Linked DNA regions of Homo sapiens. The protein of the gene in region 1 purifies or fractionates together with the protein of each later gene. This does not show direct contact. Each region holds a gene or a part of one and is shown in the gene's direction. Other genes may lie near its edges. The genes, in order: CTSS, POGLUT3, PFKL, HAGH, DNAJC10, ALDH7A1 and DNAJB12.

Region 1 (4,384 bases):
AGAACACACACAACATTTGTGGGTTAAGTCTGCTATCTTATATAGGTGTGGTTTGTAGCTCACCCTCAAAATTATGAAGTAACATCAAAGATCATTGATCACAGATGACCATAACAGATATAATAATGATGAGAAAGTTTGAAATATTGTGAGAATTACCAAAATGTGGTACAAGGACACAATGTGAGCACATGCTTTTGGGAAAATGGTACCAATAGACTTGCTGAATGTAGAGTTGCCACAAACCTTCAATTTGTAAAAAATGCAATATCTAGCTGGGTGCAGTGGCTCATGCCTATAATTCCAGCGCTTTGGGAGGCCAAATCAGGAGGATGACTGGAGCCTAGGAGATTGAGGTTACAATTAGCTATGATCATACCACCTGTATTACAGCCTAGACAACAGAGCAAAACACTGTTCCTTAAAAAAAAAAAAAAGCTAATATCTGCAAAGCACAATAAAGCAAAGCACAATAAAATGAGATATGCCTGTATACACAGAGAATTAAAATAACTGATTGTATGCAAGTTTAAAAATACTTAGAAAAAAACAAAAAAGAAAAAAACTTAGAAAAAGGTGGTGTGCTTATCAAAGAAGGTTTCTGGGGGAACTATGACTGGAGTGATGCTAAGCTTGGCAAGAACACTGACAAATACAGCATTGGTGGCAAATAATTATGAGCCCTAGTTTATGCATGACAGTATATGTCCTTGACTTTTTTTTTTTTTTTTAAGATGGAGTCTTGCTCTGTTGCCAGGCTGGAGTGAGGTGGCACGATCTCAGCTCACTGCAACCTCTGCCTCCTGGGTTCAAGCAATTCTCCTGCCTCAGCCTCCTGAGTAGCTGGGACTACAGGTGCGTGCCACCATGCCCAGCTAATTTTTGTATTTTTAGTAGAGATGGGGTGTCACCATGTTGGCCAGGATGGTCTCGATCTCTTGACCTTGTGACCCGCCCGCCTTGGCCTCCCAAACTTCTGGGATTACAGGCATGAGCCACCATGCCTGGACATGTCCTTAACTTTTTAAATTAACCTTGCTATGTATCCAAAGCAGGCTAATAAAAAGTAATACCGTTTTAAAATGCCCTTTATTATCCTATAGTATTCACTCTTTTTTCCCACCCATATTTGATTCTCAGGTGTCTACTATGAACCATCCTGTACTCAGAATGTGAATCATGGTGTACTTGTGGTTGGCTATGGTGATCTTAATGGGAAAGAATACTGGCTTGTGAAAAACAGGTAATATATTTACACTTTATATTTAATTGGAATCAGGAATTTGAGGGAGTTTCAGCAAATACTCTCATGATTTTGATGATGATCATTATGATCACGATATTGACAATGATGAACTTTATAGCTTCTTACAAAGTGACATTCTAAATTACTCAGTGCCCCCATCTTTTCACTTACCATTCTGCCTTCATCACTTTGTTTTCCTGGTTTATCTTCTGTACTACTTCTGTGATTATTCCTTCTCAGCCTCTCTCATGAACCTATTCCTCTCCTCTATTTAGCCCAAAAATGTTAGTTTTCCCCAGGGCTCTATCATCTGCCCATTCCTCTTCTTATTTTATTTTTTCTTGGGTGCTATAATTCCACTCTTAGGACTCTAGCTATAACCTTTATATGCCAATAGCTTTTGAATCTCTAGCTCTAGTTCTGACATCTTCCCAGAACTTCAGACTTATCTGGACACACTCACTTACATATATCTTAGTCTTTCCAAACTCAATACATCCAAATAATTCAGTACTCTCTCCCCCATACTGTTCCTCCTTCAGAATTTCCCATATCAGTAAAGGGCCACACAACACAATCACCCAATAAGATATGATGGATTCATCTGAGACCTCCCCAAGTCCAACCAAGCAACCAATTAGTCAAACCAATTTTACCTTATCTATGTCCTTGATTCTGTTCCTTCTCTGTTTCTTCTATTACGGCTCTAGTTCAGGCATCTCTAGTGTGGACTATTGCTGTACCCTTCTAACTGGTCTCCTTTACTCTCTATTTTCTTCCCCTTTACCCTCAAATCCATCTTTCATACTGCTGCCAAACTTATTTGTCTAAAATATGAACGAGTCTGGGCTTATAACTCTTCTACTGAGTTTCATTCGGTGTAAAATTAATGTTCCCTGACAGAAGACAAATCCTATAGGCTGTGCTCCCTGCCTTGCCAGCCTCACCTCCTGGCATTTGTTGCCTCCTATTTTCACTCTGGTTATACTGCACTATCCACAGTTGTAGTTCCCATACATTCCACTTTATCTGTAATACCTTCCTTCATATCTTGGTTTGTGTTCCCTCTGCCTAGAACATCCTGTCTTCTCTTTTGGTTTACTTCTCCTTTTCTTCAGAAGTAGCTCAGGCACAATCTATTCCAGAAAAGTCTTTCCTGAATCCTTGGGCTGAGGAACATGTCTTTTTTCTATGCTGCCAAAATGTCCTATGCATACTGGATCACAGGATTTTAGGCATTATATTTAAATTGTATATTTACCTGTCTGTCACTCCAGTGTTCTGTACGTGCCTTTGGGGAGAGATTATGTCTGGTCTTCATATCCGCAGCACAGACTAAGTGGGTGGCACCTAAAGGCCCCTCAATATATGTATTGAACTGACATCTATATCACTCATAAACAAAAGGAACATAACTTCTAGAGGGAAAAAATGGAGGAAATATGAAGAGTTGAGACTTTGGGGCATACCTGGAGTTTCTCTTTGTGTTAGTTTGCTATGGCTACCATGACAAAGTGCCACGAACTGAGCAGCTTAAATGACAGAAATTTATGTCTCCCAGTTCTGGAGGCTGGAAGTCTAAGATCAAGGTGTTACTTCCTTCTCACGCTGTGAGGAAGAAAATATTCGTGGACACAGGAAAAAAAAACTGTATGATCTTACTTATATGTGGGATCTAAAAAAGTCAAACTTACAGAAACAGACAGTAGAATGATAGCTGCCAGGGACTGGAGGCTGGGTAATGAGGAGATGCTGATCAAAGAGTGTAAACTTTCAGGTATAAGATGAACAGATTCTGGGAATCAAAGGTACAGCACGGGTGGAGATGGATGTGTTATTTCATTTGATTATGTCAATCATTGCACAATGTGCACATACATCAAGTCATCACACTGTATACCTTGAGTTTATACAATCTGTCAATTAAATATGTTCTTTTAATTAAAAAAAAAAGTTTGATGCCTCTCCCCTAGCTTCTGAAAGTTTGCTGGTGATCTTTGACTTTCCTCAGCCTTTAGGACAATCACCCTGACCTCTGCCTTCATTTTCACATGACATTCTCCCTGTATGCATTTCTGTCTCTATTCATAATTTTACTTTCTTCCCCTTTTTGAGACAGGGTCTCACTCTGTCACCCAGGCTGGAGTGCAGTGGGGTGATCAATGTTCACCGCAACCTCAAACTCCTGGGCTCAAGCAATCCTCCCACATCAGCCACCAAAGTAGCTGGCACTACTGGCATGCACCACCACACCAGACCAATTTTAATTTCTATTTGTAGAGACAGGATCTCTCTATGTTTCCCAGGCTGGTCTCAAACTCCTGGGATCAAGTGATCCTCCTGCTTTGGTCTCCCAGAGCACTGGGATTACAGGTGTGAGCCACTGCGCCTGGCCAATTTTCCCTTTTCATGAGCATCATTCATGTTGGATTAGGACCCACCCTAATGACCTCATCTTAATTTAATTAATTATGTCTACATCAACCCTATCTCTAAATAAGTTCACATTCTGAGGTACTGGAGGTTAGGATTCCAACATGAATTTTGTGGGGACACAATGCAACCCATAACACCCCTTAAATCTTTACTTGAAGTACATAGTCTACAAATCAAACAAAAGGTGCTTTCCTACCCTTTTCCCACTGTGGCACACATAGAAGATGATGATATTCGTATGGCCCATGGGGAAAGTAGCTGAGGGGATCAATATCTTGGTTCACTGATAACCTATTCACAGCACTGATCAGCTTGGGTGTAGACCAGTGATAGCTTTTTAAAATGAAACTATTTCCCTCATATCTTATTGACTCTCTAAGGAACTCCCTACGGCAGGTGTTCTAAATTCCCTTCTCTACTGAAGTTGCTCTTGAAGATCATCTATATCTTTTAGTGTTGAAATTCAAATCTGCTTCTCTTCACTCATTCATTCAACAAGCACTTACTAGGCATCTACAATGTGACTGGCATTATCTAGGCCCTGGAGATACAAAAAATAGTAAGAAACCATCCTGTCCTAAAGGCACTCACAATCTAACATGAAAAAATATATATAATATATATTATATATACATACATAATATACAATACATATTATGTATGCATACATAATATACAATACATATTATGTATGCATACATA
Region 2 (4,384 bases), on another chromosome or scaffold:
ATTTAGAAACTAAGAATTTCACAAACGTGTTTAGTAATTTCAAAAGATATATTTTAAATATTCTAAATTTTATAATATGCGAAGTGAAAAACAACTTTGGTCACAATTTTCCTTTTGCTAGGACTGTGGATTTCCAAGGATTCATTACTTTTTTAGCATTTTCCTTTGATATGGTGATCTAAATGGTATATCCTCTGCACTCTCTGAAGGAAGAAGTTTCAAAGTTTATTCCTGGCCACAGTAACACTAATCACAACAGTATCATTTCAAAGCCTAAATGTCAGCTAATAGGAAAGGGAAAGTTTGTTGAATAGTTATTATTTACGTAGAACAGAAACCCCACAAAACTTTGAAGGTGGAATGGATTATTACAGTGTAACTGTTTCATTTCAAGCTGAGGAAACAGACTCAGAAGTAATCTCTAGTATTTACAAAGATGTGTATGTGTGTGTTTGTGTGTGTGTGTGTGTGTGTGAGCTTGTACAAGAGTCTGGTAACTAGCTGTAATCTCTCTCTACGTAAGGAAATGGCCTTAGAAGTACCACTTGAAATTTGGGCTTAATAAACGGGGAAATTTTCACAGAAATGAAGGTTATTAGATACTGAAATGGTATACAAAGAAAGCTTGTGTGTGTTTTATAAGGAGGAAGTTCGATTACTAGAGAGATCTGTCATGCTTAGAGTCCATGGATTTTTAACTATTTGGGCTTTAATCCTACCCAAAGGAGGAAAGACCAAATAAGCAAAAAGTTTATTTTTTATTTGCTTTTAAAAAATGATTTGCTTTTGTTCATGCAGTAAATCTTTATTGAATGACTAATGATTCAAATGTTGAGTCTGATCCGTGGTTTGAATACATGAACCAGACCAAGCTCTGTGGCTCAAGCCTGTAATCCCAACACTTTGGGAGGCTGAGGCAGTGGGGATCGCTTGAAGTCAGGAGTTTGAGATCAGCCTGGGCAACACAGCAAGACCCCCTCCAACCCATCCCGCCCCCCACCATCTCTACAAAAAATTTCAAAAATTAGCTGGGCATGGTGGCACACTCCTATAGTCCCAGCTACTCATGGGGCTGATGCAGGTTGAGGCAGGAGGTTCATGAGCCCAGGAGGTTGGAGCTGTAATGAGCTAGGATTCTGCCTCTGCACTCCTAGCTGGATGACAGAGCAAGACCCTGTCTCAAAAAAGAAAAAAAAAAAAAAAAGAATGCATGAACCAGACATGACAGTTCCTGGCCTCAAAGATCTTCCAAAGGAAATGATTTTTTTTTAACCACCAATGCTGCAGGAAAAAGCAACATATTTAAGTTATCCAATAACACCTATCCAATAATTGTAAATCATTATCATGACATGGTAGAGTTGTTTATATTTCTTTTCCTTTTAGGTGAAACACCATTCAAAGTCGTAGTCAAATCTCTTTCACCTAAAGAGTTGGTCCGGATACATGTCCCTAAACCTTTGGACAGGAATGATGGAACATTTTTGATGAGATATAGGATGTATGAAACTGTCGATGAAGGCCTGAAGATAGAGGTCCTTTATGGTGATGAACATGTGGCTCAGTCTCCCTATATTTTGAAAGGTAAGTGATTATTATATACTCCAGAGTCAGCCTTGTGTGTAGGTCCCATGCCTTTCAGAATGGCCTAAACCTGATGACCTCAAAGTCATGTGCAGTAAAGTAAACATTGTATACATACCTCCTGGAGCTCAATTTAAATTTTAAGGGAAAGAAAATTAAGTAAAGAGATTTAAATGATAAGAAAAAAATCTTGTGTATTTACATCCATGTAGTTACTATTTGCGAAACTCTTCATTCCTTTGTGTAGATCCATATTTCCATCTAGTAACATTTGCCTTCTGCTTAAAGGATTTTTATTAATATTTATTTTACTGTGAGAATGCTGGTGATGAATTCTTCCAGCTTTTGAATGTCTGAAAAAACTTTATTTTGCCTTTTGTTTGTTTGATTTGTTTTTTGTTTACTTTGAGACAGGGTCTTGCTCTATGGCCCAGGCTGGAGTACAGTGGCACAGTCAAAGCTCACTGCAGGCTGGGCGTGGTGGCTCACATCTGTAATCCCAACAATTTGGGAGGCTGAGGCGAGTGGATGGCTTGAGCTTAGGCATTCAAGACCAGCCTGGGCAACATGGTGAAACCCCGTCTCTACTAAAAATACAAAAATTAGCCAGGCATGGTGGCGGCGCATGCCTGAAGTCCCAGCTACTCGGGAGGCTGAGGCTGGAGAATCGCTTGAACCCGGGAGGTGGAGGTTGCAGTGAGCCAAGATCACATCACTGCACTCCAGCCTGGGTGACAGAGCGAGATTCCATCTCAAAAAAAAGCTCACTGCAACCTTAAACTGCTGGGCTAGGCCATGTGCAGTGGCTCACACCTATAATCCCAGCACTTTGGGAGGCCAAGGCCAGAGGATCACTTGAGCCCAGGAATTCAAGACCACGCTGAGCAACATGGCAAAAACCCATCTCTACAAAAAATTAGCTGGGTGTGGCGGCACATACCTGTAGTCCCAGCTACTCAGGGGGCTGAGGTAAGAGGATCACCTGAGCTCAGGGAGATCGAGGCTGCGGTAAGCTGTGATCGTGCCACTGCACTCTGGCCTGGGGGACAGAGTGAGACCCCCTGTCTCAAAACGAAATAAAACAGAAACAAAAACTGCTAGTTTAAAGCAAACCTCCCGCCTCAGCCTCTCAAGTAGCTAGGACTGCAGGCACATACCACCATGCCCAGCTAATTAAAAAATATTTTTTTGTTTCTACAAAACATTTTTTTGTTTCTACAGGGTCTTTTTATGTTACCTAGGCTAATCTCAAACTCCTGCACTCAAGTGATCCCCCTGCCTCGGCTCCCCAAAGTGCTGGGATTACAGGCATGAGCCACCATGCCCGGCCTAGTTTGCCTTTGTTTTTAAAAGACATTGTCTCTAGTTATAGTTATAGGTTGATGGGTTTTTTTTCTTTTGATACTTTAAAGATGTGGTTCCACTGTCTTCTCACTTGCATTGCTTCTAACAATAAATCTAGCATTTTCCTTATCTTTGTTCATCTGTGTTGCTTTTAAGGTTTTCTCTTTATCAGTTCTTTTGAGAAGTTTGATTATTATGTGCCTTGGTGCAGTTTCCTTAATGTTTCCTGTGTTTTGGATTTGTGGAACTTCTTGGAATTTAAACCATCCAAGTGATTTAAATTTCATCAAATTTAGAAAAATTATGGCCATTATTGCTTCAAATATGTTTTCTGTTCCATTCCACCTTACCTTCAAGGATACTAATTACCCATATATTGGGCTTGAAACTATCCTGTGGTTCATCGATACCCTTTTCATTTTTTAAATTCTTTTTTCTCTTTGTTTCATTTCGTATAGTTTCTATTACTGTCTCTAAGTTCTCTTTTCTTCTGCAATGTACGATCTGTTGTCAATCCTATACAGTGTAGTTTTCACCTCTTGATGCTTTTTCATCTTCTTGAGCTCTTTTCTGGGGTGCAGTTAAATCACTGGGAAATAGTTTAATCCTTCCAAGTTTTGCTTTTACAGTTTGTTAGGTGGGACTAGAGCCATGTGTAGTCTAGGGCTAATTATTCCCCGCTACTGAGGTAATACCCTTCTGCATACTTTACCCAAGCCCTGTGAATTAGGAGGCTTTCCAATCTGGCTGGTACCCACCGATAAGTACTGTTCTCTCTGGTCATTTTGGATGGGTTCTTCCCCTGTCTTCCCCAAGAACATATGAACACTCAGGTGGCAAATATCTTAGATGTCCATTTCTCAGCCTGAAATCTGTTTTCATCCTTTGTCATTATCATTCTAAATATTTAAATGTTATACCTAAATAATTAAACTGTATTATTTTTAGAATCAATACAGGGGAAGAACCCATCCAAAATGCACTGATCATATGCTCTGCTCAATATGTGAAGAGGACCTTCTATAGATCTCTAACGTTCTCTCTGTGCAGTGCTTCCTTTTTAGATACTCTGTCCTACAAAGTCTAGAGCTGCCTTGGTCTCCCTGGACTGCCAGCTCTGTCTCCTCAACTCAGTGAGGCTGCCTGGCTTTGCCTACAGTCCCCCTCCCTGTACTACAACCTCAAAGCTCCCTTAAGCAGTAGGCTGTAGGAATTGTAGGGCTTACCTTATTTGTTCCCCATCTCTCAGACTCACTGTCCTTCATTGCCTAATACCTAGTGCCTTAAAAACTATTGTTTAAGGCCAGGTGCGGTGACTCACGCCTGTAATCCCAGCACTTTGGGAGACCGAAGCAGGTGGATCACTTGAGGTCAGGAGTTCGAGACCAACCTGGCCAATATGGCAAAACTCCGTCTCTACTAAAAATACAAAAAATTAGTTGGGCGTGGTGGTGAG
Region 3 (4,384 bases), on another chromosome or scaffold:
TCCTAGAAAGGCTGACCCTGGCCGAGGGGAAGCCTGTGGCATAGTGTGCCCTTCTCTTTGCCCTCTATGTCAGCCGGGCAGCAGGAGAGTGGGGACTGGGAGGCACTTTCTGCCCCAATGCTGAAGTCTGCGTTTGTTGGATGTATGGAACAGCCAGCCTCACCATCCTGCCAGTGTTGCCCAGTCCTGGGACTTCTCGGGCCTTGATTTCCCCTTCTGTGAAAGGGGGTTGGGGACAAGACAGGCCACCTTGCAAGTTCCTTCCAGCCAGCCCACAAGTCCTGTCCTGTGTGGCTCTGGGTCACGCCTTTCCTGTTGGCCAGGGGTTGGTGCTGTTGAGCAGGGGAGGGCGTTGTTCAAGGATATCTATTTGCACAATAACCTGTGCAAAGGTAGCTAGAAGACTTGAAACAGGCCGGGCGCGGTGGCTCACGCCTGTAATTCCAGCACTTTGGGAGGCTGAGGCTGGTGGATCACCTGAGGTTAGGAGTTCAAGACCATCCTGGCTAACATGGTGAAACCTCGTCTCTACTAAAAATACAAAAAATTAGCTGGGCATGGTGGTGCGCATCTGTAATCCCAGCTACTCAGGAGGCTGAGGCAGGAGAATCGCTTGAACCAGGAGGTGCAGGTTGCAGTGAGCCGAGATCGAGCCACGGCACTCTAGCCTGGGCGACAGAGCGAGACTCTGTTGCAAAAAACAAACAAGAAAAAACCCCAAAAATCAGCCAGGCGTGGTGGTACATGCCTGTAGTCCCAGCTACTCGGGAGGCAGAGGCAGGAGAATCGCTTGAACCGGGGAGGCAGAGGTTGCAGTGAGCCAAGATCCCGCCACTGCACTCCAGCCTGGGTGACAGAACGAGACTCTGTCTCAAAAAAAAAAAACAGACTTGACCAAAAAAAAAAAAAAAAAAAAAATGGCCCGGCCTGCCTATGCCTACCTTCATCTCGCCCTGGCCTGGGCACTTTTAATTCTCTGGGCCCTTTGTCTAGTGCCCCCTCCCTGCCCCTGCAGGACACCGTGCCCTGCCTTTCCCTGGCTGGTGTGTTTGGACGTTGGTTTCCTGTTATCGCAGGTGAGGACTTAGCTTCCTGGCCCGCCACGCCTCCCTGACATGGCCTCCTGTTTGGAGCCTTCAGGCTCATGCTTACATCCTTAGCTGATCATTAAACTTTGTGACCATTTCATGCTCACTGCTTTCTTGCCTGGGAGCTAATGGTGAGGAAAGGTCACTGGGAACCAGCGCACCAACCTCAGACATTGATTTTGTTCCAGCCTTTTTTCCTGGGCAGGGGTGGCTATCACCTGCTGGTAGGCAGCGGCAGGCCCACTGTCCTGCCTGCCCTCTGACTGCGGTGTCGGCGACTGCTGCCCGAGGTTTATTTTGAGAAAGAAAAGCCGATTAAAGGGCCATTAAAAAGGTCTTTTGAAGATTACAGCTTCCAATGAGGTTAACAGAGAAAATTTCCTCCTTCAGGCCGCAGCCAGTCCCGTTCTAAAATCCAGAACGTGTCCCTTTCCAGTCCCGTTCTAAAATCCAGTCCCAACAACAAAGTGGCCATGTGACATGGCCACTTTGTTCTCCTCCCAAGGGCTCAGCACAAAGCTGGGTTTTGGCAGCTTCATTGTCTCCGGGCGTCAAAGCAGGTTTTATTTTGCAGAGCACCCTGAAGACATTTGGAAGTGAGGGGTACCCTTGCTGACCCCTGATCCTGGGGCCCCTTTGCCGTTCCCAGGTCCCCTGACAAGCCCACCAGGCCCCCTGCTGAGATGGCTGTGACCCTGGGCTGACCCGCCCAGTGGCACATTGACTCCGCCTGGAGCTGGGGAGACCAGAGAGGCCCTGTGGTTGGACGGTGGCCTGGGTGCGCTGCTCCTGCCCTCTCCTTGCCCTGCCTCAGCTGCTGCCTGCCAGAGGTGGGCTTGGACCTGTGGTGGGACCAGGTCTGCAGGGAGGGCGAGGGAGGGACGGAGGCTTAGCTTCGGCCAGCTGTGGCTGAGTGGATCTCCCTCACTGCCCCCAACTCCAGTGAGGGTGGGGGACAGGGCGCTGCACTCACAGCACCACCTTGGACGCCCAGCCTCAGGCAGCAGGACTTGGCTCTGCTGACTGTTTTTGGTTGTCGGGTGCTTGGGGTGGCTCAGCTGTCTGGGGGGGGCTCGGCTGTCTGTCTCGGGGGGCTTGGCTGTCTGCGGGGGGCTCGGCTGTCTGGGGGGCTCGGCTGTCTTTCTGGGGGAGCTTGTCTGTCTGTCTGGGGGGCTTGGCTTTCTGGGTGTGTGTGGGATGCTTGCTGGGTTCCCGCCCCAGTTTCAGCTGTAGCAGCCGTGCTCCCATCTATGTGGGGATGTGAGGGAGGCACTGTTCCTTTAGAGACGGCGTTGCTTGCTCAAGTGGAGAAGCTGCCAGTGTGGGCAGCTCCAGCTCCCTGCACGCTCTGTGCTCTGCCCATTCTAACGTCTGTGCCCCTTCTTCTGGATGGCTGCCGGGCTTGGCTCTGGCCCCCCTGTTGGATCCCCTGGCTGCTGGGTGGGGAGAGGGCCACCTACTGAACCTGAGGGTGGGTCTGGGTGAGTCCTGGCTCTGCTGCCACCTGCTGGGCTCTGGAAGGTCCCTCACCCTCCCTCTGGGATCTCATTGGATTCCTGTAGTGTGGGGATGGTGGCAGATACTCTGGCTGCTACGTGAGAACAGTGTGCCGATCCCTGGGGTTTCTCAAGGCGTGGCACCTCACCTCACACCTGCTCCCTGCTGCTGAGCCCCACGCCAAGCTGGAGAGCGGATGAGAAGCATGTGTAACCAGGGTAGAGGTCGAGAGTCCTCTCGTGGGGGTCTCCATGTTCAAGGGAGCTGCCGAGGCTTGAGCAGGAGCCCCCAGCAGGTCAGCACCTCCAGCCTCTGCAAGTACAGGGGGGTGGGAGGGCAGGGGCTTTTGAGGGGCACGAGGCTTGGGGACAGAGGACCCGCATGGCTTAGGGATGGATGGCATGGTATGGGTGCTGGGAGGGAGGCAGGAAGAGCAGGGCTGGTCCCAGGGGCAAGCACAAACTCAGGCCTGTTACACGGCCCCAGACCTCACTCAGAAGGGGACCCTGGCCGCTGGCGTGGGTTTCCTCCTCTCTGAAGATTAGGTGGTCTTGGCTGCCCCTTTTGTATGAAGTCATGGATATCTTTTGAGATGGGGGCTCTCGGGAAGAAGGTGTGGGGTACATTAGCACCAGCGTTTCCTGAGTGCCGCCTCCCCCGTTAATGTCCCTCTCCAGGAAACTGGCTTTGCCAAGGCCCCCGCTGGGACAGACTGTTTCTTTCACTGCAGTCCTGGGAGCCGAGGGCAAGGGGACAGGAAAGAGGAAGTGACCTCAGAGCCTGGTGGCACCAGCATCATGTCCAGGCTGGGGGGTGAGGGTCCCTGAGGCCCTGGGGCAGGGCAGTGCTGTTCCCTGGGTGGCTGAGGCCGGAGGGGCTCTGTTCTCAGTCCCCCATCTCATTGCGGAGGAAGGAGCCCAAGCCCCTTCCAGCAGGTGCTTTCCTCAGTGCCCAGAGGTGCTCCCCGGCTTCTCCATCCCCACGCCGCAGCCTGAATGTCTGGGGTGGGGCCGGTGTGGGAGGTGCCGGCCTCTTTTCCACCTGCCCCACTTTTTATCCTGCTCTGTGGTCAAGGCCTGGCCCCGTGGCCTGTGAGTGTGGGGGCTCCGTGGCAGAGGTTGGGGCGGCGGGGTGTGGAGTTCGGGACACCCACACATGCCTGATTGCCATGCTCTGCATGGGATGTTCCCAGTTTATCTCTGGGCACCATACTCCAGGTGCTCGGAAGCTGAAGCCTAGAGCCTGCTGGGTTCACCCGAGCCTCCACCCGGGGGCCCAGGGCTGGTCCTCAAGTTTCCTGGCCTGGTGCCTCCTGAGATGGGGAGGGTGACCAGGCCTTCCCTACCCCCTGCCCTCTGAGATGGGGAGGGCGTCCGGGCCTTCCCTGACCCTTGCCCTCTTGAGATGAGGAGGGTGACCAGGGCCTTCCCCCACCACCCGCCCTCTGAGATGGACAGGGTGTCCAGGCCTCCCCTACCCCCTGTCCTCTGAGATGGGGAGGGTGTCCAGGGCCTTGCTTCTCAGCGTGGGACTGACAGGTTTGCCCTGACCTCCACAGGCATGAACGCTGCTGTCCGGGCTGTGACGCGCATGGGCATTTATGTGGGTGCCAAAGTCTTCCTCATCTACGAGGTAAGGCCAAGGTGGGCTGTGTGTGTGCAGGGAGTGGGGACCTCCTGAGGCGCATGCCGAGGTGTGTTCTGTGTGGGTCACACTGGGAGACGGGGTGGTCCTGGCCTGGAGGAGCTGATGGGTATGTGGTCTTGGGGAGTGTGAGGGGGAGCTTGGGGCCAGGCCAA
Region 4 (4,384 bases), on another chromosome or scaffold:
GAGCCGGAATGCAGGGGGGCTGAGTCTGGGCAGCCGTGGCCGGAGGGCAGCCAGGGTTCGGGGCCTGGGCCTTGCCGGTGAGTGTCACCCTGCTCCTGGCCCCCTCCTGAGTCCTAGCCACCAGCCTCAAGTGGCCCCCACCTCGTGGCTGTCCTTGTTTCCAGGTGACACCTTGTTTGTGGCTGGCTGCGGGAAGTTCTATGAAGGGACTGCGGATGAGATGTGTAAAGCTCTGCTGGAGGTCTTGGGCCGGCTCCCCCCGGACACAGTAGGCAGCGCCTCCCTGCGGGCCGGGGTGTGGGGGGCCTTAACCAGGGCGGGGCTGCTCTCCCTCCTGGCACCCTCTCACCGGACACCCCCCGGGGGCATCCAGGTCCCGTCCCTGAGGACTTTCACAGGTGGTAACAGCCTTCCGAGCTCACCTGTCACCTCTCTCCTCAGAGAGTCTACTGTGGCCACGAGTACACCATCAACAACCTCAAGTTTGCACGCCACGTGGAGCCCGGCAATGCCGCCATCCGGGAGAAGCTGGCCTGGGCCAAGGTGAGTGGGGCCGTCACTGCGCAGTGCCTTCCTGTGGGCTGCTCAGGGCCGCTGTGCACAGCGGGGTCGCCAGAGTGGGTAGACACTCACACTCTGAGCCCAGAGAGCAGGCCTGGGATTCAGGCCAGTGTGGCCCAGCTCGCCCTGCACGGCAAACCCAGGGGTTCTATGGAGATCCCTCTGCCTCGGAGGGTCTGGAGTAGGCCTCAGACGCTGCGTGTGTAAAAAGCGCCCAGCCTGTTCCCACATTCTGAGCAGTAGGGTCAGGCTGGCAGCACGTGGCTCTGCTGGCTCTCCAGGCCACAGAACGTGGCTCTGTGTCCAAAGGACTCTTATCTCCACGGTGGCCCCACGTGAGCCTCCATGGCGTAGCCCAGGCCAGCTGGGCCAAAGTCTGCCAGGAGCAGGACGGGGTTCTCCAGGGGTGTGTTTCCCCGAATTCACTGGAAACGGTGTCACAAGCACGCACGCCTGGGTGGTCTCAGGCGTGGGCTCCCTCTGCTGAGTGGAGTGAGAGTCGCTGCCTCTGACAGGGTTGTTTTAAATAAATCACCCGGTTTTTTGAGCATCTTTTTCAATTTCTTAGAGTAGAGGTTAACATTATTTTACAGTATTTACTCATGCAAATTCCAACTCTAAATCAGATGAATCATAAATACTCATCTTTTTTTTTTTTTTAATTTTTTTTTGAGACGGAGTCTCCCTCTGTCGCCCAGGCTGGAGTACAGTGGCGTAATCTCGGCTCACTGCAACCAGCACCTCCCGGGTTCAAGAAATTCTCCCTGCTGGCCGGGCGTGGTGGCTCACGCTTGTAATCCCAACTACTCAGGAGGCTGAGGCAGGAGAATCGCTTGAACCCAGGAGGCAGAGGTTGCAGTGAGCCAAGATCGCTCCACTGCGCTCCAGCCTGGTGACAGAGCGAGACTCCGTCTCAAAAAAAAAAAAAAAAAAAAAAAAAAATTCTCCCTGCCTCAGCCTCTTGAGTAGCTGGGATTACAGGCGCCAGCCAACACGCCCAGCTAATTTTTCTACTTTTAGTAGAGATAGGGTTTTGCCATGTTGGCCAGGCTCGTCTTGAACTCCTGACTTCAGGTAATCCGCCTGCCTTGGCCTCCCAAAGTGCTGAGATTACAGGCGTGAGCCACGTCACCTGGCCCGTGTGTCTGTCTTGAGTGGACAGATTGCAGTTTGAGGAATGTTGATGATGTTTGCACTTGTGTAATCCCCTCCACAGTCCAGATGTGGAACTTACCACTACCCCAAAGGCTCCTGTGTCCCTCCCATGTGGCGTCCCCGCCAGCTGTTGCTCTGCTGTGACCTCAGGTCACTTTCTAGTTTCCCATGAACAGAATCTCATTGCTCCGTCATCTCTGTGGCATTCTCGGCCCCGCTGATGTTGGTGAGGGTCAGCCACGCTCTTTGCTTCTGAGTAGCCCATTGTGTGGAAATGCTACAATTTGTTTATGCATTTGTCTGTTTCCAGTTTTTTGCTATTTGAATAAAGCTGCTATGGACATTTGTGTACAAGTCTTTTGTGAACATGTTTTTATTGCTCTTGGATACTACCTAAGAGTGGAATTGCTGTGTTGTGTGGTTAAAGGTGTGAACCGTTTTCCAAAAATGGTTGTACTGTTCTACAGTCCCCCACCAATGCTTGAGTTCCGGGGCCTCCATGCTGTGCCAGCACTGCTTGGTGTTGTCGGTCTCTCCAATTTTTGCCATTCTAACTTGCCTGTGGTGGCGTCTCACTGCCTTTAAAATGTGGATTTCCCCATGTGACCATCTTTTCATGTGTGTCGGCCTTTGGATGCCTTCTCATGAAGTTTATGTTCAATCTTTTGTCCATTTTAAATATTGGGTTTGGCCTGTTGGGCTGCTCTTGTAAGAGTTCCTTATATCATCTGGAAACAAGTCTTTGTGAGATATATATATATATGTGTGTGTGTGTGTGTGTGTGTGTGTATATACATATATATATTTATTTGTTTGTTTTTTGAGACAAAGTCTTGCTCTGTCGCCCAGGCTGGAGTGCAGTGGTGTGATCTCATCTCACTGCAAGCTCTGCCTCCCGGGTTCAAGCCATTCTCCTGCCTCAGCCTCCCAAGTAGCTGGGACTACAGGTGCCCGTCACCACGCCCAGCTAATTTTTTGTATTTTTAGTAGAGATGGGTTTCACCGTGTTATCCAGGAAGGTCTCGATCTCCTGACCTCGTGATCCACCCGCCTCGGCCTCCCAAAGTGCTGGGATTACAGGCGTGACCCACCACGCCCAGCTGAGATATATATTTAAAAGATGTTTTTCTCTCCCAGCTCATGGCTTGCCTTTTCATTTTCTTAACATTGTCTTTTGGAAAATAGTTTATAGTTTTGGTGAAGTTCCATTTACTTATTTTTTGTTTGTTTCTTTTTTTTTTTTTTGAGACGGAGTTTCACTCTTGTTGCCCAGGCTGGAGTGCAGCGGCGCGATCTCAGCTCACCGCAACATCCACCTCCTGGGTTTAAGCGATTCTCCTGCCTCAGCCTCCCGAGTAGCTGGGATTACAGGCATGCACCACCACACCCGGTTAATTTTGTATTTTTAGTAGAGATGGGGTTTCTCCATGTTGATCAGGCTGGACTCGAACTCCTGACCTCAGGTGATCTGCCCACCTTGGGCTCCAAAAGTGCTGGGATTACAGATGTGAGCCACTGCGCCCGGCCTACTCAATTTTTCTTTTATGTTTCTTGTGCCCTTTCTAAGATATCTTTGCATACCCTTAGCTCACAAAGACTTTCTCCTGTGTTTCTTCCTAGAAGTTTTAAAGTCTTAGCTTTTATATTTACAAACAATTTACAGTGTTCCCTTTCAAGATGGTGTTTGTGTGTGGTGCGAGGTGAGGGTAGAGGTTCACCCTCTCGCAGTGTGATCCCGAGGTGTTCAGGGCTGTCTGTCGAAGGACTGTCCTTTCCTCCCTGGATTGCCTTGGCACCTTTCTGAAAAGAATGGGCCCTCTATGCCCGAGTCTGCTTCTGGTCTCTGCTCTGTTTCGTTGGTCTCTATGACTTGCCACGGTGTCCGAGGACAGCACCTTGATGACTGTAACTCTGTGCTGAGTCTTGGCACTGGTATGTGTGAATCCTCCAGTGTTCTTTTTCAAAATGGTTTTAGTTGTTTTAAGCCTTTTACATTTCCGTTTTCAGAATCATCTCGTGAACTTCTATCAGAAAAGCTAGCCTGGCTGCTGATTGGGACTGTTGTGATAACTGATGTGGCGAGAATTGCGATCTTAACATTGAGTGTTTCTGTGAGCTTTCCATCTATGAATGTCTTTAGCTTTTCTCAGCAGTGTTTTGAAATTTGCGTGTTCAAGGTCTTGCACGTGTTACTAAATGGATCCCTAAGCACTTCTGGTCATGATTATTTGTTGATACTAGTTATAAATACAGTGGATGCGTATTAACTTCCTGGGTGTCTTAGTCTGTGTGGTGTTGCTATAAAGGAATACTTGAGGCCGGGTGACTTATAAAAGGAGGTTTATGTGGCTCATGGTTATGCAGGCTATATAAGCAGCATGGCCTGGGCGTCTGCACCTGGTGAGGCCTCAGGCTGCTTCTGCTCATGGCAGAAGGCGAAAGGAGCTGGTGGGTGTGAAGCATGTGGCCAGAGGAAGGAGAGAGTGGGGGAGGCAAAAGTTTCTTTTAAACAACCAGATCCTGTGGGAACTAACAGCAAAAACTCGCACTTGGAGCAGGGCACCAAGCCGTTCACAAAGGATTCCCCCCATGATCCAAACACCTCCATTAATTGGGGATCAGATTTGAGCATGCGTTTGGAGGGATGGACATCCCAGCCGCAGCCCCG
Region 5 (3,738 bases), on another chromosome or scaffold:
TGTAGCATGTGTCATAATTTTCTTGTTTTGAGACGGAGTCTTACTCTGTCCCCCTGGCTGGAGTGCAGTGGTGTGATCTCAGCTCACTGCAACCTCCACCTCCCAGGTTCAAGCGATTCTCCTGCCTCACCCTCCCAAGTAGCTGGGACTGCAGGCATGTGCCACCACGCTGGCTAATTTTTGTATGTTTAACGGAGACAAGGTTTTAGTGTGTTGGCCAGGCTGGTCTCGAACTCTTGACCTCAGGTGATCCGCCTGCCTTGGTCTCCCAAAGTGCTGGGATTACAGGCGTGAGCCACCGCACCCAGCCAATTTTCTTCCTTTTTAAGGCTGAATAATATTCAATTATATATACATTCTACATTTTGTTATTCGTCCGTTGATAGGCTGCCTTCACCCTTTGGCCATTGCAAATAATGCTGCTATAAACATGGGTGTACAAATATCAGAAACCCTGCTTTCAGTTCTTTCAGCTATATACCTAGAAGTGTAAGTCTATATCATAGTAATTCTATTTTTAATATGGGGGGACCTCCATACTGTTTTTCATAGCAGCTGCACCATTTTACATTCCCACCAATAGTGCACAAGAGTTCTGATTTTTCCACATCCTCACCAACACTCATTTTTTTTAAATAGTAGGTATCCCAATGAGTGTGCGTTCATATCCCATTGGAGTTTTGATTTGTACTTTTAGAGTCTTTAAATTATTACTTTTTCCATATCAAAGTACTTTGTGGGAAGTTGGTTATTTTACATTCTCATACCATGCTTTGTATTACTTTCCCATTTGGATGCCCTTTTCATCCTTCACCTCATCCTGTAAACCCAAAATCTAACTTAAATCCCAAATCCAACTTCCACTGTAAAGCCTTTGCTGACTTCTTTACTTCACATTGATTTCTGAATTTCTAAAAGTTCCTCATTGTCTACCACAAAACTAAGTATTTGTTTATAAGAAAAAGCTTTATTTAGTCCTATATTATTCTCTGATTATTCCATATGTTATCTTCCAAACTAGATTGTTAGGTCTTCAAGAGCAGAAGAAATTTATTTTATACTTATAAACTTCAAGATTTGCTGAAGTACTTTGGGTGCTAAATGCTTCTAGCTTATTCGTTTAGTTTACATGACTTTCTGCATGTGAAACTTGAGAAAACTGCAAATCTAATACCTTGGTCTTACAGAACTGAACAATACTTAAATGTGTTTAAACCTGCTATATAAAATGTCAGATGTAAAAGCGAATATCTAATGAAGCACCTTTTCCCTTTTCTAAAATTCAATAGTAAGGGCCAGGCACAGTGGCTCACACCTGAAATCCCAGCGCTTTGGGAGGCCGAGGCGGGTGGATCCCTTGAGGTTAAGAGTTCAAGACCAGCCTGGCCAACATGGTGAAACGCCGTCTCTACTAAAAATACAAAAAAAAATGGCCAGGCGTGGTGGTGCACGCCTGTAATCCCAGCTACTTGGGAGTCTGAGACAGGAAAATCGCTTGAACCCGGGAGGCAGAGGTTACAGTGAGCTGAGGTCACGTCACTGTACTCCAGCCTGGGCAACAAGAGTGAAACTCTATCTCAAAAAAAAAAAAAAAAATTACAATAGTAATAATTATGCCTTCTAACACTAAAATCAAATAACCTTACTTATCAGTTACATTGCCTACTAAGCTGACTTATTTTCTGACTTTTCCTTTGCTTTATTCTCTTATTTCTTCCAAGTAACCATATTCTCTTTTACCCTCCTGTTCAACTGTCTATGCTCCTTCTCTCTTTGTTCACTATTTTGATATTTAAATGTTATGACTTATTTTCAAGTAAATATTTTTTTAATTTCTTCATTTGGGATAAAATATTCACTACATAAATTTAGTGGATAAATACCCCCACAGAGATCGACCCTGCATGAAATGTGTTCCCTCAGAAGTAGGGCAATTCATTCATTATGAGATCAAGCCATAAAATTTAAATCCAAGCAGTAATTCTCCAATTAAAGTAACTCTAGAGCTTAGTTTTCAGTCCTCCTGAATCATAACTAGTTGGCAACAAAAACTAGTATGCCTTGGTGTGAATAAACCTTAACATAGAAACTCACCCAGCCTCAAAAGTTAAAAATTAAGAGAGATATGTATTCAGGTGGCCATTTATACACAATATTTTTGAATACTATTCTGGCCAAATTAGTATAAAATGGGTTACTCTAAAATGAAATTTTAAAAGTATATAAACATCTTAAACTTTAAAACTTCAGCCCAGCTAGAAGTCAACGTGTGTTTCTGAAACTATGCTGGGGAAAGTAGCTCTGTCCATAATGATTATATAGTTGTTAGCAAAATATTGGTCAAAACTTTTTCAGTTTAATGAGTTTCAAGATATTCTTCAAACTGGCCTCTGTGAACTCTTTCTTGACAAGTGAAACCTGGCTCCAACAATGACTACTTTATTCTACCTCTCATTTATTTTCTGTTTAATAAATCCAGTATTTGGGCATACAAACTGTATACAACATTTTATAACACTCTAATGTGGATAAGACACCTCAAAAACAGGAGTTTAGTCATTTCAGTCACATGTTTCTAATACATGATAAGATTTGCAGTTATCGTTTAATTAATTGCAATATGGAAATAGATACTAAAAAATCTAAATTGCATCTTACATTTCAACAATGGATGTTTAAAGCGTTTAAAAGTTATGTTTTGCATTTTACAACATATTGAAGATACACATTTTAAATTTAACTCTAAACAATGCAATAATCTAGAGAATCAGAGAATTGGATCCTGAAACACCTTATAAGTTCAGTCCTGTTGATTAGTATGTTTCCCTGTCCTAGAGTGCATGAACTTTCAAAGCCAGGACACAATCTTGTTCACTTTTCATGCCATCATCTTGACACTCAATACATGTTCAAAGAGTAAATTAAAGAAAAAAGAGATGCTCAAGTCAATTTATAAGTAATCCTCACAAATGCTTGCATACCATCAGTGAACAATTATTTTTTTATCTCCATGCTATAATCTTGCACAAGTTTCATTAGAATTAAATGCACTATCTGAAGTCTATGTTTATTAAATGAGGATTACAGTAGTTGGTTATCTTTGTGAGGGGTTTTGAGGGTTGTGGAACAGGATAACATTTTGAGGTACAAAAAATAATGAAGAGGATATATTCCAATTTCTTTCCTTCCCCAAGGCTTTTCATTACAGCTGTTATAAACCCTGGTAGAATTGATTGGTTTCCTTTTCAGCTTCCTGTTTTGTCCCTCAATGTTCACAAAAGTCCCATCTGATAAATGTATTGTTTAACCTCTCATTGTTTGAAAGAACACCTCTTTGCTCCCCACAGATTACAGACCTATTGGCTTAAGCAGTCCATCTAAATGCATGCCAGTTTCTTTCTTGATAAATTAGAGGCCTATAACCTCAAACCAGTTTATCTGCAAGAGAAGTGTGTGAAGTTAGACTCAATTCTTCCGCTAATGGAACATCGTAATCCTCCTTGTCATCTTTCCTTTGGCCTTCCTGAATAGAAATCATTTATGAGGAAGTTACATGAGCTCAACATGAGCCCCATGTCACTCAGCAAACATTTATTTGAGTACTTACAATGTGCTAGGCTTTGTTCTATGCATTTAAGATAGTGTATTAAATGTATTGACCTCATGAAGATTCTATTCTCGCAGTGGGGAGATAGACAATAAACAATTAATATAAGCAAATGTTAAGTATGTTAGAAG
Region 6 (4,384 bases), on another chromosome or scaffold:
TACAGGTGGAAGCCATCATGCCCAGCCCTGAGGAAGTTTTAGTTAGGTACAAAATTTGGCTGCATTTGCCATTTAAAAAAAATTATTTTTAAGCTCTGTTGGACTTGAGCCTTTTTTATTATTGTTGAGTTTTCCTTTTGTAATGAAAAAAGCCTTCAGTTGAATTATTAAGGAATTGGCTTTGGGTTTTTGCTCTCATTCATATTGAGTGTGAACAAATTCTTTATAAGACTGACATAATCTAAATTAATTAGAATAAGCTAAAAGATATATGAAAATTATCTTTACCTTACACTTTTCTTTTTTCTTTCTTTCTTTTTTTTTTTTGAGATGGAGTCTCTCTCTGTTGGCCAGGCTGGAGTGCAATGGTGTGATCTCAGCTCACCGTAACCTCCACCTCCAGGTTCAAGTGATTCTCCCACCTCAGCCTCCTGAGTAGCTGGCACTACAGGCACCCATCACCGTGCCTGGCTAATTTTTGTATTTTTATTAGAGATGGGATTTTGCCATGTTGGCCAGGCTGGTCTCAAACTCCTGACCTCAGGTGATCTGCCTGCCTTGGCCTCCCAAAGTGCTGAAATTACAGGTGTGAGCCACCGCACCCGGCCTCTCACACTTTTCATATTTGTTTTTTCAGGTGTTTTGCATAAATGAAAATAAATCTTTATTTTTACACAGCTGACATTCTCAAATAATCTGATACTACATTTGTAACTTTAAAGTTTATTAAATTTGTTCACCATAAACATTAAATTGCGTTAAAGATTACGTTAAAGCTAAGAAAAAACCATGCACTCCAAATGATTATACCCTTCATTACATGGTAAAATATGAAATGACATAAAAGCCAAATATTTCTCTATTCAGCCAATTTTTATTTTTTTCATGTGTTTTGGAGCAAATATTCATAGACGTCTTTTATATTAGTTTTAAATATTAATAGGTAATATTAGTCATTGTCCAAATAGATTTCCTTAGAGTTAGCAGTAATATTTTTAAAAATTCCATTACTATGGACTGCTTCATGACTAGTTCTCATAATGTCAATTCATTCATCACATGTGGAGACTAACCCAGAGCATAGATGGTTTGGCAAGTTCAGCTCTGCCACTTGGAGCATAGCATGGACCTGACAACTACCCAGAGAATGCAAGGGTTGTCCTCACCTAATTAAGGCCTCCTCTGGAGACCTGTGTGGCCTGGGGTTAAGTGTTTGTAGTTACCCAGCAGAGGTCAGTTATGACTATGCTCTGTGTTCACTGGGACTTAGGGTTACAGTATGGGACACATGTACTTGAGGCCTTCTTTAATGTATTTGTGAAGCTTAGACAAATACATCCTTGGAAACTTGATGAAGATGTGGCTTATGGACCGGGTGTGGTGGCTCACACCTGTAATCCCAGCACTTTGGGAGACTGAGGTGGGTGGATCACCTGAGGTCAGGAGTTCAAGACCAGCCTAGGCAACATGGCAAAAGCCTGTCTCTACTAAAAATACAAAAAATTAGCCAGGTGTGGTGGTGGGTGCCTGTAATTCCAGCTGCTCGGGAGGCTGAGGTATAAGAATCGCTTGAACCCGGGAAGTGGAGGTTGCAGTGAGCTGAGATCATGCCACTGCACTCCAGCCTGGGTGACAGAGTGAGACTCTGTCTCAAAAAAAAAAAAAAAAAAAAAGACATGGCTTATGATTTTATTCTATTATCTACCTAAAAGGAAAATTTTGACTTCATATAGTTAATATTAAAATGATAAATTATATAATTAAAAAAATAAACATGCTTTGATTTTCTTATATTTTTAGAGATTACAGTATTTCAGTAACTATCAAGGAAATTATTCATTGTTTAAAAATGTGTGCATTTATCATACTATGCCCTTGAATATCTTTTTTCGTTTAGTTTATACATGAAAGCATCCATGATGAGGTTGTAAACAGACTTAAAAAGGCCTATGCACAGATCCGAGTTGGGAACCCATGGGACCGTGAGTATCTCCTTCTGCTTTCAAAGCGATCCCTTTTTGAGAGCTGTTGTTAACAAGTGTTTCTGATCTGAGTTTTGGAGTTTCTTTCCCTTTCCTGAGAGGCGTGAAGGCACATGAAGCAGGTTATTAGGCTTTGGTGTATCGTGTCTGCTCCTAGGTTTCGACCCTGGCTGCTTGATGTGTGCTAGTGGGTGAGACTGGGAGAGGTTGTTTAGATGGAATGAGATTTAGTGTGCTTCTCTCTCATTACTATTACCCTTGTCCAAGCCGACACCATCCCTCTTGTGCAAGGCTGCAAGAATCCCCTAACTGACCTTTCTGCATCCATTGCTACAGAATGATTTTTAAAATGCAATCAGATAATTCACTCTCCTGCTTAAAATACCCCTCAGTAACTTCTCATTGCTTTTAGATTTTTTTTCCTTTCTTTTTTTTTTTTTTTTTTTTTGAGACACAGTTTCACTCTGTTGCTCAGGCTGGAGTGCAGTGGCTTGATCTCAGCTCACTGCAGCCTCCGCCTCCTGGGTTCAAGCAGTTCTCCTGCCTCAGCCTCTCGAATAGCTGGGATTACAGGTGCATTCCACCACGCTTGACTGATTTTCATATTTTTAGTAGAGACAGGGTTTTGCCACGTTGGCCAGGCTGGTCTCGAACACCTGACCTCAAGCAGTCTGCCTGCCTGGGCCTCCCAAAGTGCTAAGATTACAGGTGTGAGCCATTGCGCCAGGCCTGCTTTTAGATTAAAACCGAGAGTCCTCTTGATTTCTTCTTTTTTGCAGGCTCCCGATCCTTCCTGGTCTGCTCTCTGCCTCCTGCCCCGCTTGCCTTCTCACCAGCCTTTCTGTGTCTATTTTCCCTCTTGCTCCCAGAGCTCCACCTTCTCCAACATCCTTTCAGTGTTCCAGGCATGCCAGGCTCTATCCTACTGTGCTGTCTGCTGGAAACATTCTTCACCCAGAGTGGGGATGGCTCTGCTAACATGCCTCCTCCTCATAGAGGCCTACCTACATCTTCCTTCTTCTTTGTTGCTGGGTCACTGTCAGTGCTCTAGTCCCCAGCAGCCGTAACATAGGACAGCATCATTCTCTTCCCCCTTGAATTATACACCAACTACTGAGACTGTGATGTTTCCTTAGAGAATGGTCACACTGTAATGAGTAAACTGACCCTATATTTTGAGTGCAGTGCTTTGAGTAATTGATAGCCATTCCTTTAAACTAGAGATTGGCAAACAGACTTGGCTCTGCCTGTTTCTGTAAAAAAAAGTTTCTCGGCACATACCCACTCATTTGCATGTCATTTATGGCTGCTTTTGCACTACAATTACGGAGTTGAGTATTGGGATGGAGATCACGTATGTCCTCCAAAGCATAAAATATTTACCATCTGGTTCTTTATGGAAAAAGGATGCTGACTTATGTTCTCAATTGAGAGCATATAGGAAGGGATTGGTCTGTTCATTGAGAAAGCTGTTCTAATAATAAAACGATGCCATAAAGGGCAAAATGATGAGCCAGCCTTCCTTTTCTCTCTCCAGCTAATGTTCTCTATGGGCCACTCCACACCAAGCAGGCAGTGAGCATGTTTCTTGGAGCAGTGGAAGAAGCAAAGAAAGAAGGTGGCACAGTGGTCTATGGGGGCAAGGTAAGGGATGCTCTGAGATCAATTGTGACAGCTTTTTAACCTTCTTTTCCCTGAGACACAAGCAGGGCTCTGGGCATATTGGAAAAGCCACCCCATTTGACATCCTTCTTCTCCTGTCTTTATTTATATATATTATTATAAAACAAGGAAACACATGTTTTTGTTTGTTTGTCTGTTTTTGAGACAGAGTCTTACTCTGTGCCCAGGATGGAGTGCAGTGGCGCAATCTTGGCTCACGGCAACCTCCGCCTCCCAGGTTCAAGTGATTCTCCTGCTTCAGCCTCCCGAGTAGCTGGGATTACAGGTGCATGTCACCACACCCAGCTAATTTTTATATTTTTTGGTAGAGATGGGGTTTCCCATGTTAGCCAGGCTGGTCTCTAACTCCTGGCCTCAAGTGATCCACCCACCCTGGCCTCCTAAGGTGTTGGGATTACAGGCATGAACCACCACACTTGGCTCTGTTTGTTTTTGTGACAGGGTCTTGCTCTGCCACCTAGGCTGGAGTGCAGTGGTGCACGATCTCAGCTCACTGCACCCTCTTCCTCCTGGACTAAAGCAATCCTCCCACCTCAGGCTCCTGCGTCTTGCTCTGTTGCCCAGGCTGGAGTGCAGTGGCGTGATCTCAGCTCACTGCAACCTCGCCTCCCAGGTTCAAGCGATTCTCCTGTCTCAGCCTCCCGAGTAGCTGGGATTACAGGCACCCATTACCATGCCCAGCTAATTTTTGTATTTTTAGTAGAGAAGGGGTTTCACCA
Region 7 (4,384 bases), on another chromosome or scaffold:
TTTGATAGCAGGAATAAAGTACGGGCACTGTTGTTAAAAGAGAACAGCATGAAAGGTTAATGAGAGGGAAGAGAGCTTCAGGGCAGGAAGCCAATAGGAGAGAATTGCCTTGAGCTGGTTGGATATTCTGAGGGCCTGGGACAAGGCAGTCATGGATAAGGCTAAGGTCCCTGGAAAAGAGGCACCAGGCCTGTGTGAGAGAGAGGTGCAGAGGAGAATCAGATGGGATGCTGGGGAATCAGAATTGAAGCCCCTGTGACCAGGAAGAAACCAGGCTGAAGAACTGAGATGGGAAGAGATGAGCAGAGTGGGAGGTGCCAGTGGGATAGTCCAAAGGAGCTGTCAGCCTGGAACTCAGGAGAGCGCTCCAGGTTACAGGTGAAAGTGTGGTATCGTCTGTTCCCTGGAGCTCACTGGAGTTGTGCATGGCTGAGGTCACTGTGGGAAAGTATAGACCATGGAGAGAAAGTTGCTGCAGGCACAATGGCAGGCAACACCTGCCCTGAGCCCACAGGCAAAGGCAGAGGAAGCAACAGATTGAGATGGAGCAACAGGAAAAGGCAGTCCCCGGAGAGGGCAGCGGCCAGGTAGCCATGGAGAGGTAATGGCAGCAGGTGGTGAGCAGCCCTGTGTGATGCCGCAGGCACTGCATGGGAAAAGGACAAGTTAAGAGTTGAAAAGGGAAGGATCGAGAGCATGGGCAGAGGATGGTCTTGGAGAGGTGGAAGGGCAGAGAGGGGAGAGTCACGAGAGAGGGGAGGCTCAGAGCAACCTTGAAAGGATGAGGGACCTCACACTGTTGGCCTTTGCAGCAAAAAGGGATGTGAGGGGGCTTGAAACTCCTGCTGCAGGAGGTGGGACAAGGAGGCACTGAGTTAAACTGCAAAGCAGTAGCTGGGCCCTAAGCTGGGAGGTCACAGACTAGAGATGGTGGAGCCAGTCAGTCCCTTTCTGGGAGTTTCTGTCCAGTAGCTGGCAGCCTGGTAAGCCATTGGCTTTGACTCAGGCTTTGTAACAAATGTGGAAGGTGCCAGATTTCCCAGGGAGCTCACGAGAGCATTTGTAGGCCTCAGTTTCCCCAGCATACAAAGAGAGGATTGGCTGGGATGATCCTGAGGTTCCTTGCAGCTCAGGCTATCCAATGTTCTGTGAAATGGTTGACTCTGGGCTAAGTCATGAAGGCCAAGCTGGGAAGGCCAGCCCACAGGAAAAGGAGACGGATTGCTGAGGGATTCTGCATTCAGAGTCCAGGAGTGAGAGATGTTCTGGTGCTGGCGAGGTCCGGGGTGGGGTTGTACCCTTCAAGTCAGTCAACCTTCATGAGCCCCACTGTGCACTTAGCCCCCTTCCATTCACTGTATTTCACAGAATCTTATTTACCCCTCAGAGCACTCCTATGAGAGCAGAGATCGTCTCTCCACTCAGGAACCAGCTAACCTGGCAAGGCCACATGGCTAGCCAGCAAAGACCCAGAGCTGTCCATCTCCAATCCCAGGCCCTTTTCTGACTCACTGTGAGCACCGTAGGTACACAGAGCCCAGAAACTCAGCTACTCACTTACTAACAAAGTCACGGTCAGAGACAACACTGTATATTTGCTGGGCATTGGGCTGAGTTTTTTGCTGGCATTCACTCATTTCCTCTTTTAGCCTGTATGATGGAGATAGAGTTTTGCACAGATGAGCTAAGTTACCTTGTCCAAGATGACCCTTCTAGCAAATGGCAGAGCTAGGTTTGAACCCATCGGGCAGTCTTTTTTTTTTTTTTTTTTTTTTTTTTTTTGAGACAGGGTCTCACTCTGTTGCCCAGGCTGGAGTGCAGTGGCACAATCACAGCTCACTGCAGCCTCAACCACCCAGGCCCAAGTGATCCTCCCACCTTAGCCTACCAAACAGCCGGGACCACAGGCATGTGCCACCACACCTGGCTAATTTTTTTATTTTCGTAGAGACAGGGTCTTCCTGTGTTGCCAAGGCTGGTCTCGAACTCCTGAGCTCAATCCATTCTCCTGCCTTGGCCTCCTAAAGTGCTGAGATGACAGGTGTGAGCCACTGCCCGGCCAAATCTAACTCTAGTCTGGGTTCAGTGGCTTTGGCCATAGAAATCCTCTCAGCTCTACCTCAGGTGCCTCTCCACCGCAGCTCTGTTCTCTTCTATCGAATTCCCTTCCTTTTCTAAGTCTGCCAGCTTTACTGAGAAGGTAACATTAAGCTGTTCTGTCTCTTTTTGTGACATTGCCTGTCAGCCTCTGTGCCATGAGGGATGTAAGCATGAAGCTGTCACATCCCCCAGGCCAGAAGAGAGACCCTACTTGCCAGCAACTGGAAATCTTTAATTTCCAACTCAAGCAGAAAGCTTCTATGTGACCCAGGGCACCCCCATTCTCCTTTGGGCTCTCTTTCTGTACTGTAGGGAAATTAGAGTGGCTGATTCCCTGTAACTGCCCTGAAAAGCTTCCAGAATCTTCTCTGAGAGGTACAAGAGAGAGCCTGTCCCATCTCCTGGCTAGTGCTCCTGCTCATCTCTGGTAGTTGAATAACTGGTTATTTTGCCCTTAGGATCTGCCAGGCTCAGCCTGGGCCACCAGAACTTCCAGAGGAACTGAAATAATAAAGAGCTTCTTGAAAAGCTCTAGGAAACAGCATACTGCCTCCTCCTCCTGCCCCGCCTTGACCAATATCTCTTCATCTTTCGGTTTCTCTTGCCATCCCCTTGGTAGCTGGCATGGACCTGGTATCTGGGATGGCCTGAAATCTCATGGTTACTACTGGTTCCAGAGTCTGCTGAGCGCTGAGTCTTTGCCTTCCTGAGCCTTGGAGCTCCCCCGCTACCCAGCCCTCCTCCTCCCCAGCCCCCACCACAGGTTCCCTCACTTCCCTGGCCAGCCCACTTCTGTGGCCAGACACTTCATCAGCCTTGAACCTTCACTCTCTGTCAGACTCGGCACAGGTGCTTACACACATTATCCCATTTCATCCTCCGCCACCGTGACGAAACCAGGGTTCAGAGAGATTTCATAGATCAGCCAGGGTCACACTGCTAGGAATGGCAGAGCTGAGATTTGAATCTGGGCCTTTCTGAATTTGATGTCTCTTCTATGCTTTTGCTTGCATCCCTGTCCCCGATCCCCACCCCATCAGACACGTGCAGCCCAGGATAGCAGCGTAGTTAAGAGCATGGACCCTGGAGCTGGACATCCTGGGGTTCGAAGGCCCCTCTGCCTCCTAACCAGCTGTGTGGTCATGGCAGCAGTCTGCCACAGTACCCTCTTCCTACAGTGGGGTGGGGTAGGTAATGAGACCTTCCTTCTAAGGCTGCTGTGACAATTAAATGAGCTAATGCAGATCACTGTGAAAGTACCCACCTGACACACATCACTGGGTAAGAAAAATGATTGTTGCTATTGTTCCTCCCCAAGCACCCTCTCAGGGTTTGCTACAGGAGCCCGCCTCCCTTACTCAGAGCAACCCCAGCTGTGAGCTCCTGTGTTTGGATTTCCCAGTTGAAGACTCAGCAAGATCACACAAGCTCGGAGTGCGGCAGCAGTGGCCCAGGGCACAGTGCTCCACTGGAGCCCCATACTCTGTTCCCAGTGAGACTGGCTCTCAGCCTGTTGGGTCAGACCTCAGTGGGTCGCACTGGTGGGTGTGGCACCCAGCATGGCGTCTTCAGGCCAGCAGGCACCTGGCGTGTTTGAAGGAATGTGCTGGGATGTGCTGCTGTCCTTCCTTAGCACAGAGGGATGCTGGGTCCCTGCAGTGATCCAGATGCCTGTTTTCCCAGCTGGTCAGCTTGTCAGAGGCTTTAGGATTTTACTACCCAGGGCGCTGGGGCCCAGGCCTGACTGAGGTTTCGTGCCTGGAATAAATGGACACAGGGACCTGCTGCCAGAGACTTGGGCCCTTCCTCATTTAATCTGCAGGAACCACAGGCTTGTTTTTGCTTGCTTTTGTTTTTTTGAGATGGAGTCTTGCTCTGTTGCCCAGGCTGGAGTGCAGTGGCACAATCTCAGTTCACTGCAACCTCTGCCTCCCGGGTTCAAGCGATTCTGTGCCTCAGCCTCCCGAGTAGCTGGGATTACAGGCGCCTGCCACCACGCCGGCTAATTTTTGTATTTTTAGTAGAGACGGGGTTTCACCATGCTGGCCAGGCTGGTCTCAAACTCCTGACCTCAGGCGATCTGCCCGCCTCAGCCTCCCAGAGTGCTGGGATTACAGGTGTGAGCCACCATGCCTGGTGGGCTTGGTTGTTTTTGTTTTTGTTTTTCTGAGACAGAGTCTCATTCTATTGCCCAGGCTGGAGTGCAATGGCATGATTTCGGCTCATTGCAACCTCCGCCTCCCAGATTCAAGCCATCCTGCTGCCTCAGCCTCCCTAGTAGCTG

What was found.
Region 2: the proteins of CTSS (region 1) and POGLUT3 purify together in Homo sapiens (affinity purification with mass spectrometry, with the first as the bait; one large-scale study listed by BioGRID). This does not show direct contact.
Region 3: the proteins of CTSS (region 1) and PFKL purify together in Homo sapiens (affinity purification with mass spectrometry, with the first as the bait; one large-scale study listed by BioGRID). This does not show direct contact.
Region 4: the proteins of CTSS (region 1) and HAGH purify together in Homo sapiens (affinity purification with mass spectrometry, with the first as the bait; one large-scale study listed by BioGRID). This does not show direct contact.
Region 5: the proteins of CTSS (region 1) and DNAJC10 purify together in Homo sapiens (affinity purification with mass spectrometry, with the first as the bait; one large-scale study listed by BioGRID). This does not show direct contact.
Region 6: the proteins of CTSS (region 1) and ALDH7A1 fractionate together in Homo sapiens (co-fractionation; one large-scale study listed by BioGRID). This does not show direct contact.
Region 7: the proteins of CTSS (region 1) and DNAJB12 purify together in Homo sapiens (affinity purification with mass spectrometry, with the first as the bait; one large-scale study listed by BioGRID). This does not show direct contact.

What each region holds. Positions count from the first base shown.
Region 1 is NC_000001.11:150,744,636-150,749,019, reverse strand, and holds part of CTSS (cathepsin S isoform 1 preproprotein), read left to right. Parts: intron 1-1,140; coding exon 1,141-1,243; intron 1,244-4,384. UniProt on the Homo sapiens protein: Thiol protease. Key protease responsible for the removal of the invariant chain from MHC class II molecules and MHC class II antigen presentation. The bond-specificity of this proteinase is in part similar to the specificities of cathepsin L.
Region 2 is NC_000011.10:108,488,170-108,492,553, reverse strand, and holds part of POGLUT3 (protein O-glucosyltransferase 3 isoform 1 precursor), read left to right. Parts: exon of another isoform or gene 1-1,352; coding exon of another isoform or gene 1,353-1,386; coding exon 1,387-1,584; intron 1,585-4,384. UniProt on the Homo sapiens protein: Protein glucosyltransferase that catalyzes the transfer of glucose from UDP-glucose to a serine residue within the consensus sequence peptide C-X-N-T-X-G-S-F-X-C. Can also catalyze the transfer of xylose from UDP-xylose but less efficiently.
Region 3 is NC_000021.9:44,302,538-44,306,921, forward strand, and holds part of PFKL (ATP-dependent 6-phosphofructokinase, liver type), read left to right. Parts: intron 1-1,020; exon of another isoform or gene 1,021-1,076; intron 1,077-1,737; exon of another isoform or gene 1,738-1,918; intron 1,919-2,635; exon of another isoform or gene 2,636-2,781; coding exon of another isoform or gene 2,782-2,880; intron 2,881-3,262; coding exon of another isoform or gene 3,263-3,398; intron 3,399-4,143; coding exon 4,144-4,217; intron 4,218-4,384. UniProt on the Homo sapiens protein: Catalyzes the phosphorylation of D-fructose 6-phosphate to fructose 1,6-bisphosphate by ATP, the first committing step of glycolysis.
Region 4 is NC_000016.10:1,813,052-1,817,435, reverse strand, and holds part of HAGH (hydroxyacylglutathione hydrolase, mitochondrial isoform 1 precursor), read left to right. Parts: intron 1-164; coding exon 165-268; intron 269-441; coding exon 442-543; intron 544-4,384. UniProt on the Homo sapiens protein: Thiolesterase that catalyzes the hydrolysis of S-D-lactoyl-glutathione to form glutathione and D-lactic acid.
Region 5 is NC_000002.12:182,789,211-182,792,948, forward strand, and holds part of DNAJC10 (dnaJ homolog subfamily C member 10 isoform 1 precursor), read left to right. Parts: 3' UTR 1-3,738. UniProt on the Homo sapiens protein: Endoplasmic reticulum disulfide reductase involved both in the correct folding of proteins and degradation of misfolded proteins.
Region 6 is NC_000005.10:126,553,529-126,557,912, reverse strand, and holds part of ALDH7A1 (alpha-aminoadipic semialdehyde dehydrogenase isoform 1 precursor), read left to right. Parts: intron 1-1,897; coding exon 1,898-1,982; intron 1,983-3,519; coding exon 3,520-3,626; intron 3,627-4,384.
Region 7 is NC_000010.11:72,347,797-72,352,180, reverse strand, and holds part of DNAJB12 (dnaJ homolog subfamily B member 12), read left to right. Parts: intron 1-4,384. UniProt on the Homo sapiens protein: Acts as a co-chaperone with HSPA8/Hsc70; required to promote protein folding and trafficking, prevent aggregation of client proteins, and promote unfolded proteins to endoplasmic reticulum-associated degradation (ERAD) pathway.